3 linked regions of the Homo sapiens genome follow. The protein of the gene in region 1 interacts with the protein of each later gene in a biochemical or structural test. Each region holds a gene or a part of one and is shown in the gene's direction. Other genes may lie near its edges. The genes, in order: PAX8, NFIX and SKP2.

What was found.
Region 2: the proteins of PAX8 (region 1) and NFIX form a complex in vitro, tested with the Homo sapiens proteins (one study listed by BioGRID).
Region 3: the proteins of PAX8 (region 1) and SKP2 form a complex in vitro, tested with the Homo sapiens proteins (one study listed by BioGRID).

What each region holds. Positions count from the first base shown.
Region 1 is NC_000002.12:113,240,871-113,244,520, reverse strand, and holds part of PAX8 (paired box protein Pax-8), read left to right. Parts: coding exon 1-94; intron 95-1,742; coding exon 1,743-1,831; intron 1,832-2,390; coding exon 2,391-2,513; intron 2,514-2,794; coding exon 2,795-2,970; intron 2,971-3,650. UniProt on the Homo sapiens protein: Transcription factor for the thyroid-specific expression of the genes exclusively expressed in the thyroid cell type, maintaining the functional differentiation of such cells.
Region 2 is NC_000019.10:13,022,858-13,026,507, forward strand, and holds part of NFIX (nuclear factor 1 X-type), read left to right. Parts: intron 1-1,114; exon of another isoform or gene 1,115-1,174; coding exon of another isoform or gene 1,175-1,177; intron 1,178-1,721; exon of another isoform or gene 1,722-1,776; coding exon of another isoform or gene 1,777-1,862; intron 1,863-1,921; exon of another isoform or gene 1,922-2,139; coding exon of another isoform or gene 2,140-2,163; coding exon 2,164-2,695; intron 2,696-3,650.
Region 3 is NC_000005.10:36,165,542-36,169,191, forward strand, and holds part of SKP2 (S-phase kinase-associated protein 2), read left to right. Parts: intron 1-977; coding exon 978-1,121; intron 1,122-2,771; coding exon 2,772-2,906; intron 2,907-3,650. UniProt on the Homo sapiens protein: Substrate recognition component of a SCF (SKP1-CUL1-F-box protein) E3 ubiquitin-protein ligase complex which mediates the ubiquitination and subsequent proteasomal degradation of target proteins involved in cell cycle progression, signal transduction and transcription.

The sequences.
Region 1 (3,650 bases):
ACCCTACCATGTTTGCCTGGGAGATCCGAGACCGGCTCCTGGCTGAGGGCGTCTGTGACAATGACACTGTGCCCAGTGTCAGCTCCATTAATAGGTAAGAGAGAAAGCAGCCTCTGGTGTCAGGCTGGGGCCCCTGGGCTTTGGGGAAATCAGGAAAGAGACAAGAAAGGCCTGGCTTGGGTGGAGCAGAGGCCGGGAAGGGGCCTGATGCTGAACAATCAGGCAGGGAGCACACCTGGCTCCAGGCAGATATCATACCTCCCTGCCTCCTCCCTTGCCCCATGCTATGGGGCACCCTCCCCCTGGCCCCCAGCCATAGTGTGCTATCTACAGTTTCCTTCCTCAAACACCACATCTGCTTTCATTCAATAAAAGAATCTTCATGAATTGATCCTTTTCTAAGCCATCAGACCCCTAACCCAGCCCACATTCAAGCATTCATTCGTTTAGTCCCTCAATGATTCACTCACTGCCTCAATCAATCATTTACTTACTCACTCGCTTGTTCATTAATTCATTCACACATAATTCACTCATTCATTTTGTGCTAGGCCCTGGGACACACAAAGCCCATCTTTGCGGAGCTTACAGTCTAATGAGAACACAGATATTAATCAACTACCTACAAAAAATATTGTAAAAATGCAGCTGTAAGTCCTGCTAAGAAAAGGAACATGAAGATATGCAAGGTAGCACAGGATTATTTGGTTTATGAAGTTCATGAAAGTCTTCCCTTGAGTAAAAAACAATAAGAGAACTAGGTGAAAAGAGCTCAGACAGTTATGCAAAGGCCCTGTGGCTAATAGGATCAAAAGAAAACCAGTAGATAGGCCAGGTGCAGTGGCTCATGCCTGTAATCCCAGCACTTTGGGAGGCCAAGGCAGGTGGATCACCTGAGATCAGGCGTTCGAGACCAACCTGGCCAACATGGTGAAACCCCATCTCTTCTAAAAATGCAAAAATTAACTGGGTGTGGTGGCGAGTGCCTGTAATCCTAGCTACTTGGGAGACTGAAGCAGGAAAACCACTTGAACATGGGAGGCAGAGGTTGCAGTGAGCTGAGATCACGCCACTGGACTCCAGCCTGGGCGACAAGAGCAAGACTCTATCTCAAAAAAAAAAAGAAAGAAAGAAAAGAAAACCAGTAGATAAAGAGCAGGGGAGCACAAGGTAGGCTGAAGTTGAAGATGTCAGCAGAGGTGACCTTTCAGAGGCTGGGGGCTGTGTTATATCTTCTTGCCTTTGGTCATAAAGCAATGGGAAACCCTTGGCAGATTTTAAGCCAACTTGCATTTCAGAAAGTCCACTCTGGCTGCAGTAGGGAGAATCACTTAGAAAGGGCCAAGAGGGGATGGGCGTGGGCCACTGAGTGACCCTGGAACACTGGTGATGACATGCACTAAGGTGCTGATGGAGAGACGCAGAGAGGGGTCAACGTTGGCAAGGTTCACAAGGTCAAAACACAGAACTTGATGATGGGTTTGATAGGAAAGAGAGGGAAGCAGAGGTTAAGCCCCATCTCTGTTTTGGCCTTGAGTGACTGATGGTACCAATCATGAAATGCGGACAACTGAGGAGGACTAGGCATGCGGAGTAGGGTCACAGACTTGACTGTGGACAGTTGAGTTTCAAGTGCCTTGGAGATACCCAAAAGGGGTGTCAAAAAGGCGACTGGGTCTGGGGCAGCCATGAGTTCTCTTTCCTCCTCTTCTCTCTCATGGCCTTTCTTCTCTTCATCACAGAATCATCCGGACCAAAGTGCAGCAACCATTCAACCTCCCTATGGACAGCTGCGTGGCCACCAAGTCCCTGAGTCCCGGACACACGCTGAGTGAGTGCTGAGAGACCTGGATACACACACATGCTCGTGTACACCTCCCCTTCAGCATACCCACATATACACAGAGGCACACACAGACACACCCACACAGACATAGCTGTGCACAGTACCATTCACAAACCCATGTGTAGACTGAGTTGTGCCACTGCGACGAAGTCTGGCCTGTTCCCAGGGCAGATTCACTGAACTATGGAGAGGTGCAAACACTTGAGACAGCTCTAACTCCAAGAATCCCTCCCACCAGGAGGCCCCCTGGAGGAAGGACCTGAGCCCCTCCAGGGCTCAGTCCATGGTTCGGCTTGCTGCCTCCTGCACAGTGTCAGCAGGGACTGTGAGGGGTGTCACTCTCACTCCCTGACCCTCTCCCTCTTCCCACCACCGCAGTCCCCCCAGAGTCACCCCAGGGCTGTAAGGGGTGTCCCACCCCTTGCTCCTCTCCCTCTCCCCCAGCCCCTGCAGTCCCCAGCTCAACTGTAACTACCCCAGAGTCACCCAGGGCTGTGAGGGGTGTCACTCCCACCCCTGACCCTCTCCCTCTCCCCCACTGCAGTCCCCAGCTCAGCTGTAACTCCCCCGGAGTCACCCCAGTCGGATTCCCTGGGCTCCACCTACTCCATCAATGGGCTCCTGGGCATCGCTCAGCCTGGCAGCGACAAGAGGAAAATGGATGACAGTGAGTGCTGGGACAGGAGGGCAGCGGGCGGTGCACGAGAGCAGTTTGCTCAGGCTTTGATGGGGACAGAAACCCTTCCACTTATGATATGGGACTTTGTAGGGGCTCTGCATGTGACTGTCACATGTCCTGTCCCTCAGTTGGCCAAGGCTCCTGGGCCCACGTGGCTGGCCCTTTTTCTCCCTCCACAGTGAGTCAGCTTGGAGTCAGTCCTCTACTTTGGCCTAGAGCATGAATAGATAGGTCCCCTAAAAGCTTTCTTCCTTCCCGGGGGGTACCAGGTGATCAGGATAGCTGCCGACTAAGCATTGACTCACAGAGCAGCAGCAGCGGACCCCGAAAGCACCTTCGCACGGATGCCTTCAGCCAGCACCACCTCGAGCCGCTCGAGTGCCCATTTGAGCGGCAGCACTACCCAGAGGCCTATGCCTCCCCCAGCCACACCAAAGGCGAGCAGGTGAGAAGCTGGGCCCTGGGAGGTGAACAGGGTGGGCAAGGGCCAGAGAAGGTCTATTCTCCAAATGAGCCTGTGCTCCATCAAAGCAGCTGGAAGTTGCATCAATGGGCTCAGGGCACCTGCCTTATGCAACTCCAAGCCTGACACATGCTTTATTTTACCAGATGCCCTGGCATCTTCCTCCCTTTCTAACCCTCCTGGCTTCCTTCACCCAAAACCTTTGAGCCTGGGCCTTTCAGGGATGGCAGCACAACCTGATGATGCTATCCCTTGCCATCAGCGTCTTTCCCAGATTGCAACATCACGTTCCACAACTCTGAAGCAGTAGCACAAAGCCTTCACATAATGACCTCAGCCACTATTTCCTAGCCCCACCTTTGGCCACTCATCCTGCACACCCCATGCTCTTGCATTACTCATGGCCCCGAGCTCACCACCCTCGCTCACACCTCTCTGCCCTTGCACACTGTGTGCCCTCCACACAGAATGCCTTTCCTCCCACTTCTCTGCATGGAAAAATACCACTAGCCTTCATGACTCAGCCAAACATCACCCTCTCCGTCAGTCCTCCCCTGCCCCTCCGACATGAATCATCTCTCCTGCCTCTTGCCCTTCTGCATGTCCCACATGCTGCTCTCAGTAGCTTCTCACAGTGTCACTTAATAATCTAGCAGACAGAC
Region 2 (3,650 bases), on another chromosome or scaffold:
CCGAGTGGGAGCCTGGAATGAAAAATTCATAACTGCTGGACTTTGCTTGTTCATTAGACGTGAACTTGTCGATTGGGCAAATTGTTTTTGGTCTCCAACTGCCGGGGGCTCTCCCCACCCTCCCTGCTCGCCCGGTTCCCTCCTCCCCTTGGACGCAGCCATTGGCTGCTCGTGGATGTCTCTTTGCCAAATAGGTGGATCCTTCTCTCTCTTTCTCTCTCTCTCTCTCTCTCTCTCTCTGTCTCTTTCTCCCCCCACCCCTTTTTACTGGCTTGGCACAAGCAAATGGATGGGGATTGAGCCTGAAAGGAGAGAGAGAGAGGGAGTTTGAGAGAGAGAAAAGGAGCAAAAAAAAAAAACACCCCAAAAACCCAACCAGTGCGCACACACACGCGCACACTCACACACACGCCCCATCCCATCCACGTCCTCCCTCGATCCTCGATCTCTCCCTCCCCCCCTTCTTCCTTTCCTCCCTCCCTCGCTCCCTCTCTCTCTTTTGCACGCGTCTGCCAGCAACGGTCTGCAGCCGGTCAGAACTCGTCCTCTTCCCCGGGAATCTGCGAGCTCCCCCTTTTCCTCCGATCAGGCAGCTCGAAGTTTACACCCCTGTGCCGCTGCCAAAGCCGAAAGCCTTTTTCTTCAGCTGCCGCTTTTTCCCTCCTGGGTTTTGTTTTTGTTTTTGTTTTGCACGGGGGTGGGGTGGGGTGCGTTGTTGGTTGTGGGGAGATGGTGGGAGGCTGGTTTTGATTTTTAAATTTTGCATTTTTTTCTTTTTTTTTTTTTTTAAACTGGAAGAGGATGCACAGGGGAAGAAATTGAAAAAAAAATTTTGTTGGCTTTTGTTTACCTGGCGTGTGTGGCAGCCGGCTCGCTCCCTCTCTCTGCTTGCTATCCCTGACCTTTCTTTCTTTTTGCTCCTTTTCAAAAAAAATATTAATTTCCCCCTTCTGTGCAATGGAGCATGGGGGGGGGGAGGAGGGGGAAGGGTTTGAGAATCCACCCAAGCCCGGCCCCTATTCCCCAGAACACCAATAATAACCCCCTTTAAAACATTTACCTTCCTCCCCTGCTCCTCCTCCTCCCCCCTCCCCCCACCCGCCCCCAACTCACAACTCTTTTGAGTCCAGAATCTCAGAATCGGGCGTTGGGCTTTGCCGGGTGCTTCAGATCAATGGTAATTATTTAATTTTTTCCAGTTTTATTTTTGTAAACAGAAATCAATTATTATTTAAACTTCAAACAAGCAAACAACCAAAAAAAAAAAAAAAAACCAAACAAAACCGAGAGAGCCCATCCTTCTGTCACCTGACTGAGTGGGAAAAAGGGTGAAGGGGTTGTGGGAGGCTGGGGAAGGGGTCGCAAGAAGACCCATGTAGCTTTTAACCCTAATGTGGCCGAGACAAGCACCTTATTTGTGCTAACAAGAAGTGTTTTGTTCATTATTACTGTGATTAACATTAGTATTGGTGTCGATAACAAAGCTGAAATCACATATTTAGGATTTAGGTCTGATTAAAAAATGTTGGGGTGGATGTTCCAACTGGATCAGGAGAAAAGAAAATGAAAACAGCCTGGGGAGAGGGAAGCCTGATCTGTTTCCTCACTCGCTTGCTCGTGGATGTCATTTTCTGTCTTCTTGGGGGCGGCCAAAAATCGACCGGTGTCGGGGACCAGAGGCGGCCCCGCACGCCCCCGCGTGTGCGTCCACGGGCGTCTGTGCAGACGGACACTGTGCCGGGGCGAGCTGACAGGAGTTCACGGCTGCGATAGAACATGGAGATGTCATGGGCGCGACAGAGCCTGGCGGGGATACCAGCAGCGTGTGTGTGTGGACGGCAACGTTGTCTGTGCGCGTGTGTGTGAGTGAGTGAGGGAGAGAGAGAGAGAATAGGTGTGTGTAGAGGCTCCCGGTGCCTCTGTCTGGCTGCTGAGGCTGAGATGGGAGCAAGTGGCTGGCGAAGCTGGTGGTGGCTTCAAACCACACTTTCGTAGAACAATCGCAAGAGAAAATTGTTGGGGGGAGGGAGGAGGAGGAGAAGGCGGTTTTCCTTGTGCCCCCCCTTCTAACGCTGCTTTTCTCCTTCTCTCTTTCCCCCTCATCCCGTCTTCCCCTCCTCCCGTCCTCCCTCGCCCCGCATGCTCCCGGCTTGCCGCCTGCAGGATGAGTTCCACCCGTTCATCGAGGCACTGCTGCCTCACGTCCGCGCTTTCTCCTACACCTGGTTCAACCTGCAGGCGCGGAAGCGCAAGTACTTCAAGAAGCATGAAAAGCGGATGTCGAAGGACGAGGAGCGGGCGGTGAAGGACGAGCTGCTGGGCGAGAAGCCCGAGATCAAGCAGAAGTGGGCATCCCGGCTGCTGGCCAAGCTGCGCAAGGACATCCGGCCCGAGTTCCGCGAGGACTTCGTGCTGACCATCACGGGCAAGAAGCCCCCCTGCTGCGTGCTCTCCAACCCCGACCAGAAGGGCAAGATCCGGCGGATTGACTGCCTGCGCCAGGCTGACAAGGTGTGGCGGCTGGACCTGGTCATGGTGATTTTGTTTAAGGGGATCCCCCTGGAAAGTACTGATGGGGAGCGGCTCTACAAGTCGCCTCAGTGCTCGAACCCCGGCCTGTGCGTCCAGCCACATCACATTGGAGTCACAATCAAAGAACTGGATCTTTATCTGGCTTACTTTGTCCACACTCCGGGTAGGTCGTTCTCAACCATTTTTCCCTCTCATTTTATTTTCCTTGCTGGCATTTGTTCTGTTTATTGTTCCTCTAATTTCCAAGCGATAACTCGCCATGGGCCTAACTGGTGTATGCCCGTCCTGCGGGGCCTGCAACACGGTTCTATGGGCCCTTTTCCTTTTTCCTGTCTTCTGTCTCCCCCGACCTGTTCTATTCTTCCTCCTCTGCCCCCTGGCCATGGTATCGACTTTGTGCATCTCCATCTTTGGAGGACTTATCTGATCAGAAAGATGCTGCAGGTCTTAGGATTGGGGACATGATGCCCCCAGAATTATCCATGATGGTGAGAGTTTGAGATGAACAACAACAGCAAACCAGTAATTGCTCTTATTAAAATGAGTCAGAAGAAGTATTGAGGGGCAGGTGCTAGTTTTACTGCAGCTTCACCTCCAGTCCCAGGAAAAACTGGGTTTGGTACAAGCGGGATGGGCAGGAGTCCGGTGGAGAGAAGGGGCATGTGAAACCCTGGGATATGAGACTGAATGAACAGAAAAGAGGAGAGAAGACAGTAGTGGGCAGATTCTGTGGCCTAAATACTCAGGCGGGAGCTGTTTTGGCTGGGATTTGGCTGTCAGTATGAAAGTAATTTGATTTCATAGAGAGTGAAAACAAGGACGAGATTCCTTGAGCTCTTTCCCTTCTCCTTATTTCAGCTAAAGTGGCAAGGCCTCAGGATGGATGCCCACAGCCCTGGCACTGGGGAGCAGAGAGGCTTTCTCGGGGCACAGGCATGGCAGGGAGCAGCGTTGCTGTGGAAGAGGTCTTAAACAAGCAAACAAACAAACCAAAAAAAAAAAAAACTCTGTAAAATCTCCTTTTCCTTTTGTGTTCCAAGTAGTTCTGCTTCTCTTCGCTTTTCCAGTTTTACCCTGCATTTTGGGTCAGGGTGGTTTAGTTCTCCTCCTCTGTTCCT
Region 3 (3,650 bases), on another chromosome or scaffold:
GAGGCCAAAATGGATTTCTGTCTGGGCAAGAAAGATACAAAAGTGTGCCACTCTCTTAAGGATATCTTATCTACAGTCCACCTTTTTAATGATAGATTTGTCACACAAATCACACTGACAATTTTTTTATGATGAAGTTATTTCATAACTCTGGCCAGTGGTCCACTTATTTCAAGCACTATTAAAAAAGAAAATTCTAGTACACCTAAGCATTTAAAATGTTCCTTCATGTGCTTATATTTCACATTTTCTTTTTTTAAATTGAATTAAACTATGGATATTAAAACCCTCTTACTGTGCTATTCAGTACGTTTTTAGAACATCCCTTTTGTTTTAGAAACACCATCTATAATCCGTTGTATTTTTCCCTTATTTCACATTAGTTCATACACACACATATGTACACATACATATACACGTGTATGTTTTAAGCTTCAAATATATTATAAGGCACAGCTGAACCATGACTGTTGCTATTGAATATCTATGACAGCCTTATTTCATAATAAAATAATGCTAACTTTCGTTCCTTTAGTAATTTTCCATGTTGCTACAGTAATCATAATTGCTTGACAAAAGTGTCAAATAGATTTAAAACTTCTTAGAGGATCCTATTTGCCTAGTAATATAATAATTAATTGATTTGAGCAATCATTTTTTAAATTTGTCAACTTGAATGCTGGAATATGATTCTCTGGTTCTAGATCACGGCAGTGCTAATGTTCACATTGAACCATCTAAATTGGAAGTATATAGAAAGAGAAAGATGGAAGCTTATCCCTGGTGAAATCAAGAAAAATTCTCTAGTGCCTTAAAAATATCATAGCTAATTGTATAGCCAACTTAAAAACAAAAGTTCTTTTAGAATATGCTTCAAGGAGATTTAGCAGCAGTGTCCTACCTGTTAGTAATGTTGTTGAGGGCTTCCAGCATTTAGTGTGACCGACTGGCCAAATTAAGTATCTCCTCTTTTATAGGTCTGATGAGTCTCTATGGCAGACCTTAGACCTCACAGGTAAAAATCTGCACCCGGATGTGACTGGTCGGTTGCTGTCTCAAGGGGTGATTGCCTTCCGCTGCCCACGATCATTTATGGACCAACCATTGGCTGAACATTTCAGGTAAAGATGAAAAATCCCTGGAAAAGACTATTTCTAAATTTCGAGGTAGAAACAGATCAAAGCTTTTTTTTTTTTTTTCTTTCTTCAGCCTTAAAGCCTATGGTAGGTTATCTGTGCAGTGTGGGATGTTAATTCCATACTTTGCTATGGGGCCTTTGTGCTAAAACCTAGCATAGATTTCAATGACACTGTTCCCATTTCACTCAAGTTTACTGTTAGTCTCTTCCCAGGGTGAAAGAGGCACATTTGTCTTCTCAAGTCCTCAGCTGATAGGGGGACTGTGAGTCCCACAAGGCAGGCACAAGTAAAGCACTCACTGGCAGATGCAAGGGTGCCCAGTTACTTCCCCAATGCCCATTTCTGATAAATAAAAAAAAGTGAGGAGTCTTTTCATGTTTGTAGCTTGGGGTTTATGATTTTTGTCTTGGAGAAATTTGGAACCTGAAAAAAATGCCCTCTTTTTGTTTGTTTTGTAGAATATTTTGAAAAAGAATTTTCTGTTCTGATAATTTTGCAATACTGAGGTTACTGCTATCACATAGTAGAATAACTAGGTACTGAACAGAAAAACAAGCTGAAGACAACAAAGCTAAAGATAAAACATGTCTCCTGACTCCAGTACTTTTTCCCTTCTTTCCGTAGTCAGGACCGCCTCTCCCACTGCTTTTTATCCTGTTCCTCCTGTGGCTGTTCCTTCTCAGTCTCCTTCACATATGTGATTTCCTCTGTTCACTCCAGGGTCGGTTCCTGGCTGCCACCTTTTTCAAATCCAAATGCTGTCCCTGGACAAGCTGTGTCCTCTACACCCACATTTATGCCCAGGACTCTCAGTTCCTCATCTATAGCTTGGCCCTCCCTTTCAAATTCCCAAATTTCTAATTACCTAAAAACGTCTGTACCTGAATTTCTTACAAGGACTTCAATATTAGCATAACTCAAATTTGGCCTCCCTTTTTTTTTATTGTTTTTGTTTTTTGAGACGGAGTCTTGCTGTGTCACCCAGGCTGGAGTGCAGTGGCGTGATCTCGGCTCATTGCAACCTCTGCCTGCCAGGTTCAAGCAATTCTGCCTCAGCCTCTCGAGCACCTGGGGACTACAGGTGTGCGCCACCACGCCCAACTAATTTTTTGTATTTTTAGTAGAGACTGGGTTTCACCATGCTGGCCAGGCTGGTCTTGATATCCTGACATCGTGATCCACTGGACTCAGCCTTTCAAAGTGTTGTGATTACAGGCGTGAGCCACTGCGCCCAGCCTGGTCTCCCTTTAAAACTTTCTCTTCCGCTACCTTCCCTGTTCTATTGCTGCTCACCCACTCACCCCTGCCAGAAACCAGGAGCCGTTATGGTCTTAATCTCCTTGTCACCCACATCCAGCTCATTGTTGTGATGCCCACTCGTTATTTTCTAAGTGGGACTATATTGGCAGCAACATCTGTACTTGGCAAAAATCCTCTTGCATTTTAAAATGAATGAAGATGGGAATACACTAGTAGCAATATGTTTTATGACCCTATAGTTAATGCTTGAAGTATGTATTTAGAGTCTTGTTTGTGATTGGCTGCTCATTTGGGGAGAAGAGGGGTCTGGTTTGAAATTGGATGTACCCGTGAGAGCCACCTATGGAGCTCCTTTTTTCTCTCCGTGTTTAGCCCTTTTCGTGTACAGCACATGGACCTATCGAACTCAGTTATAGAAGTGTCCACCCTCCACGGCATACTGTCTCAGTGTTCCAAGTTGCAGAATCTAAGCCTGGAAGGCCTGCGGCTTTCGGATCCCATTGTCAAGTGAGTGGCAGGCAGAGTGTCACAAAGGCAGTTGATTTTATGTGTATGAATTTTTTTCCCTGTATATAACTGGGGTGCCCTTCTAGCCATATCCAGGTGGATACAGAAAATATCTAGTGCAGTGCTCTAGCTTCTGCAAAACTTTTCAGGACTCATTGAAGCAACAAAAGCTTGAATGCTAACTATATGCCAGGCCCTGTGCTAGGTTCTAGAGATACAAGTACAAGGATGAACAATGCATGTGTATTATTTGGGAAGAAAATGAATGCTCTAAAACTTTTCCCACCTTGTTAGTGAATGCTGGTTAAGCTATAGTTTACCTTCTTGCAAGAGGAAACATTGAGCAAGACATGTCTATTTTCTCTTGCAAGAAGGTAAACTATTTATGAGCAAGACAGATAATTACCATGCAGTGTGTTTATTAAATGTTTCAGTGAATATGTGGCAACACACGAGGAGCCGCCTTGTTAGAGGAAGTGACTCTTGAGTATTGAAGATATCTAGGTAGGAGATCTCTAGGTAATAAGACAAAGCAACCAGTCTAGGTAAAACTTCCTGTGTGGTTCTAAACTCTTACGTAGTTGGAAGTTGCTGGAGCACAGGACTAAGGGAGGAGAGTGACAAGGTGAGGAGAGTCAGGGACCAGATTGTAATGGGCCCCTACGCCTTGCTGTAAGAAGAATGGACTGGACTCTTCCATTAAGAGGGAAGCATGGGCCAGGTGTGGTGGCTCACACCTGTAAT